Linked DNA regions of Homo sapiens: region 1 is linked to region 2. The links come from fine-mapping of genetic effects on plasma protein levels. Region 2 holds a variant in brackets. A gene starts in the other region. All regions are shown on their forward strands. Region 1 holds the start of TRIAP1 (TP53 regulated inhibitor of apoptosis 1). Region 2 overlaps VDAC3 (voltage dependent anion channel 3).

What was found. A credible set is the group of variants that fine-mapping cannot tell apart. PIP is the posterior inclusion probability: the model's chance that the variant is causal. The UK Biobank Pharma Proteomics Project read protein levels with antibody pairs (Olink). The fine-mapping took linkage between variants from a reference panel, not from the people measured, so its PIPs are less certain.
Region 1: it holds the start of TRIAP1, and the variant in region 2 is the best candidate, but not a certain one, in a credible set for the plasma level of the TRIAP1 protein (UK Biobank, PIP 0.82).

What each region holds. Positions count from the first base shown.
Region 1 is chr12:120,445,502-120,448,357 of GRCh38, forward strand. TRIAP1 (TP53 regulated inhibitor of apoptosis 1) reads right to left here and starts at 883. Exons shown (of 2, transcript NM_016399.3): 1 at 725-883. The coding sequence starts at 871. GATC (glutamyl-tRNA amidotransferase subunit C) reads left to right here and starts at 943. Exons shown (of 4, transcript NM_176818.3): 1 at 943-1,060; 2 at 1,156-1,328. The coding sequence starts at 980. RefSeq lists enhancers at 65-912, 224-1,423, 638-1,187, 785-1,079, 913-1,758.
Region 2 is chr8:42,397,179-42,400,089 of GRCh38, forward strand. It overlaps VDAC3 (voltage dependent anion channel 3), which reads left to right. Exons shown (of 10, transcript NM_005662.7): 5 at 1,534-1,686; 6 at 2,473-2,525. Among named protein-coding and RNA genes, the nearest start is that of VDAC3, 6.8 kb to the left of the region's middle. The variant C/G (reference allele first, on the strand shown) is at 1,568.

The DNA of each region.
Region 1 (2,856 bases), not on the chromosome of region 2:
ATAATCATCACTTTGTGTTAGTGAAAGACTTAGGTTCAAATCTGGGTTCCAGGACTTACTGGCTATGTGACTAACTGTAAATGGGATGAAGACAGCAACTACCTCGGGGAATTGCTGTGAGGATGTGTTGGGTTAACTTATTGGAAGTGCTTTGCCCGGTGCTGTTCTTAACAATTCAAAGCAGTTCCACATCCATTGGGCCAGAATAAACATTTCCTGGCTGCAGTTGCGGGGACTGGTCAAGAGAGAGAAACAGGCTAACGAAGGGTTTATAACAACAAAAAAATGTGACCCTCCAGTCTGAATTCTGAAGTATAATCCCGCCCAGACCCCAGCAGTAATAGTGGAAAAGTGCACCACCTGCGAAAGAACCAAGGAAACCTGATGCTAGTGAACTCGGATTAATCACTTCCTATTTCTGGGTGTTAGTTTTTTATGTATAAAATATGAGTAACTATGCCCACCTTGCGAGTTTAGGGTGAACACCAAATGAACCAAAGGATGTGACTGTGCTTCTTGAAAAGCACTGCCCCAATATTTGTCATTCGGAGAGACACCCAAGTGGCCTCGGTGGTGATGGTAGGGGAGCGAGCTCCTGCCACTGGCCTCACTGCGACTTTTCTCCACCCTTCCAGTCCAGTCCCAATCCCCGTAAAATACGATGAGTGTGGTGGGACACAGCGCCGAGAATGCAGGGCCTGGGAACAGAGGCGGGAGGGCTCACCTGAACACACTGCTGGTAGCGCTTGAAGAGGTCGGTGCACGGGTCCCCGGAGCTGTCCCCCTTGAGAAATTTCTCGGCGAACCAGCGATTGAAGCACTGGTCGTACTCGCGCTTCATGTCCGTGCATGCCTCCCCCACACTGTTCATGGCGACAGTGGTGGCGGCGGCGACGACGGCGCACTCTGATGTCATCACTCTCAGGCGCGTCGCTCGGCGTTACGCGCGGGCGCACTGCGGGGGCCAAGGAAGGAAGAAATGTGGTCGCGGTTGGTGTGGCTGGGCCTTCGGGCCCCTCTGGGCGGGCGCCAGGGCTTCACCTCCAAGGCGGATCCTCAGGTAAAGGCCAGGGCCATCTAGGCGGGTGGCGGAGCAAGCCGGGAGGCACTTCGGAGCGCCGGTGACCCACACTCCCCGCCTCATCCCTCCTCCAGGGCAGTGGCCGGATCACGGCTGCGGTGATCGAGCACCTGGAGCGTCTAGCGCTTGTGGACTTCGGCAGCCGCGAGGCAGTGGCGCGACTGGAGAAAGCTATCGCCTTCGCCGACCGGCTACGCGCCGTGGACACAGACGGGGTGGAGCCCATGGAATCGGTCCTGGAGGACAGGTAAACTCGCGGCTGCAGCCCCGAAGCCTTGACCGTGGCCCGTTCGCAGCCGTTTAATGTGACGATTAGCGAACAGTTTTCCAGGGGGTTAAAGAGTGTTAGCAAGATTCAGGAACTTGCCCACAGTCACCTCGCGAGTCAGTGGCTTCACTCTTCCCCTTGTTCATTACTGATGCTCTCGCTAGTGTAAGTGGAAACAAAACCCGAACTGCTAATCACTGCCTTTGTTTTTTTTTTTGTTTGTTTGTTTTGTTTTTTTTTTTTTGAGACGGAGTCTCGCTGTGTTGCCTAGGCTGGAGTGCAGTGGCTCGATCTCGGCTCACTGCAACCTCCGCCTCCCGTGTTCAAGCAATTCTCTGCCTCAGCCTCCCGAGTAGCTGGGATTACAGGCGACTGCCACCAGGCCCGGCTTATTTTTTTTGTATTTTTAGTAGAGACGTGGTTTCACCATCTTGGCCAGGTTGGTCTTGAACTCCTGACCGTGATCCACCCGCCTCGGCCTCCCAAAGTGCTGGGATTACAGGTGTGAGCCACCGCGCCTGGCCTAATCATCGCCTTTAAGGCCCTACTCCATAGAGTCCCTACCTACTCACTCCAACGTACTCTTCTCAGTACTCTCCTTGGCTACCTTGACTGCTTCTCCAGCAAGACAAGTTCTTTTCCTCTCTAGATCTCTGCACTGGCCCTTCGTTTTTTTCCTTCCTCTCAGTATTTGCATGGCTGCCTCCCTCTTGGCACAGGTCTCAGCTTATCTTCTCAGAAAGGGCTCTCCTAACCACTCCAAATCCCTTCTCCCCTTCTAGTTAGTAACTCATCCTATTGGGTTTTTTCCCTAACATTTTAATGGACTTTTGTTCATTTGTTATATCTCTTTTATTAAAATGTGAGCTCATTATGTAGTTACTGTTTTATTCCTGCCTTGAATTTTTATTTTATTTGTTTTTGAGATGGAGTCTCACTCTATCACCCAGGTTAGAGTGCAGTGGCATGATCTCAGCTCATTGTAATGTCCACCTCCCAGACTCAAGAGAGCCTCCCATCTCAGCCTCCCAAGTACAGGACCACAGGCGCGTGCCACTTGGCCTGGCTAATTTTTTGTATTTTTGATAGAGACGGGATTTTGCCATGTTCCCCAGGCTTGTCTGGACTCCTGAGCAAAGGTGATCCACCCATCTCAGCCTCCTAAAGTACTGGGATTACAGGCATGAGCCACAGCACCTGGCCGTGTTTGATTCTTTCAAATGTCTTCTCTACTTTGCAATTTTCTTTTTCCTTTGGGACGGGGTCTCACTATGTTGCCCAGGCTGGTCGCAAACTTCTAGACTCAAGAGATCCTCCTGCCTCAGCCTCCCAAATAGCTGGGACTATAGGTGTGCACCACCACACCTGGCTAATACTTAAAATTTTTGTAGAAACGGGGTCTTGCCATGTTGCCCCATATGGTCTCAAACTCCTGGTCTCAAGCAATCCTCCTGCCTCAGCCTCCCACTTCCTCAAGAAAGTTTTTTTTTTTTTTTGAGGTGGAGTC
Region 2 (2,911 bases):
AATAAAACACTAGATAGTTGGATCTACTAAAAGAAAAATGATTGTCACGTTAAAATAATTATGTGAACAGTTAAACATGATTAACATGTTATCATTTTTTTTTTACTAAGGCCTTCCCCTAAATGTGCAGCATGATACTCTCTTTGAAACCATTCTGTGTGGTTTGATAAACAGAACATAACTTCCCAGTTGTCTCATCTGCCTGTAGAACTAGAGTTAGGGGACAGGGCATTTGTTAAGGAGAGGATTCATGTTGCAGGCAGTGAAAAAGACTGGTCAGGGTTGGCAGCATCTCATTACTGTTGGCAGGATTTCAGAAATGCTCCCTAAAACAGGACCAATCAGAATGTTTTTTCTTGACAGTTCATAGATTGTCAGTGACAGGTGCTGTCTGCTTTCCCCAGAAGGAGGTCCATTTCTAATTGCTTATTGTCATATGACTTAAAGGGCACTGAACTAGGGCAAAGGATGTATTTTATTTTATTTTATTTTTTTGAGACAGAGTCTCATTCATAGTAACTGTTTGATAGAAAGCACTCTTAAAGGTAGACAGGATAGAAAGGGGGAAAGAAGGATAAATTATAGCATTCTACTTTATTTTGAAAAATGGGTAGTACTTTCAAATATTGAAATTGTCTAAGCAGAAGTTTTGCAGTTTTGCACACAAAAGCATTAAAGTTTTCACAGCAGTGTGACTGTACTTAATGCCACTTCACTGTACACTTAAAACATTATTAAAATGGTAAAATGTATGTTACATGTATTTACCACAATAAAAAAAAACATTTTTAAAAGGAAGTAGTAAAGTGTTGACCCTATTAAAAAGGAGGAGGGCAGTATTTTGGGATTTTTAAGGACCTTGAAATTAACTGATAGTTTGAAACATATAGCAGAGAACTGATAATCTTTTTTTAGGTCATGAAAGTAAAATGTTTAAGATACAATATTTTTGGTCTTTTTAGTAAAGGCATTTGTTTTCAGTAAAGATACTTCTTTTTTAAAGGAGAGAATTTAGGATTACCATTTGGTAAGAGAGTATATGGAACAAGAGATATTAATAAGAGAAGTAGAGTAATGGAAAGATCTGAAACTGGTATTGAGCTGTCTCACTCCGTTGCCCAGGCTAGGGTGAAGTGGCATGATCTCGGCTCACTGCAACCTCTGCCTCCTGGGCTCAGGCTGGGACTACAGTCACGTGCCATCATGCCTGGCTAATTTTTTGTATTTTTTGTAGAGATGGGGTTTTGCCATGTTGCGCAGGCTGGTCTTGAGCTCCTGGACTCAAGGGATCCACCCGCCTTGGCCTCGTAACATGCTGGGATTACAGGCATGAGCCACTGCGCCTGGCAGAACTGGTTAAAATATTTAGGGACTGGAAAAGCAAGGGGAAAGGAGGAAAGAAGTTGCTCTAGAGTAGGGCTGTGGCAAGCAGTAAATGGTATTGTTTTTGATACATTGAACACTGCTTTCCAAAGTGAATATTTTCTATTTGATGAGCTAATTTTAAAGTAATTATTTTTTCTTGCTTACCAGGAATTTTCTACTTCTGGTCATGCTTACACTGATA[C/G]AGGGAAAGCATCAGGCAACCTAGAAACCAAATATAAGGTCTGTAACTATGGACTTACCTTCACCCAGAAATGGAACACAGACAATACTCTAGGGACAGAAATCTCTTGGGAGAATAAGGTAAGAGAACGCATTAGAAGTTATTCATAGGTTCAATTTATCTTGTAGATTGAATGATGAACATACCCCAAATATAATCAAAAGAGATCTTACAACCTATCTAGTAGCCATATTTTTTCTCTGCATGTGGCCTTTTTTGATGTCTTATGTTTCTAGAAAATAAGGCTTTGTTTGTGAGTACTCTAATTACTATATTACATCTTTGTTCTGACTGGTTCTCTGTTACACAGCTAAGCTTCTCCTGGGTAGAACAAACTATTTGCGGAAATTTGGTTTAGTTTTGTAATTGTTGAAAAATTGGCTTGACAGAAAAATTTTTCTAAAATGTTCTCATGTTTTCAAGGAGAAAATCTATTAGATATAGTCAAGTGCCCACTATGTACAGGGCACTGTTTTTGATAGAGATACCATGTATAGATAATGTACATGCAAAACTGAGTAAAATGACTTAGCCTGCTTGTTAAATGTCAGGTTATCTCATTACTGCTCTTTCAAGAGAGTATCAAGATGATTTTGTTGTATGGGAATTCTGTTTGGTTTTGAACTGTATTTTATGTAACTTGCTAAAATAGGATTTGCCCCATTTTTTAGTGGGAGAACCATGATGAAGGCTGGGGTGAGGGGACAGGAGGATGGAGAGCTTACTTATTACATAATTTAATATTTTGCTTTCTTGAATGACTCCTTTTTTTTGTTAAAGAACTCAGGAAACTTTAGAATTGGTTTCTTGAGTTGGATAAATGATTGAAAATTACTAATTATTTATTTTAAATCTTTGTTTTTCAGTTGGCTGAAGGGTTGAAACTGACTCTTGATACCATATTTGTACCGAACACAGGGTAATTATTCAAATCCCATTTCCTGAAACGTTTTTGGAGCCTGAAAGGGTAGAGAGCTTTAGAATAAGGAGATATAGTGCAAAGTTCAGAGGCAGGAAGAACTCAGAAGGTTGCTATAAGGAATATTGGAGACCTTGTATAGGTAATACAGATAAAGGAAGATCCCTCCCCACCAAGGCAGGATGAACAATTTGAAAACTGAATAGATGAGCAAAAATGTATAAATGTATTTGAGAGAGACACATGGTAGAAAAAATTTAGGAGCTAGAAGAGTCTTGAGACCATAGATGAATCTTAAGCAATTCTGAAGATTGATGGACATGGTATTCTGCTGAGAAAGTTAATTCCTTTTGGCTGGGCGTGGTGGCTCACGCCTGTAATCCTAG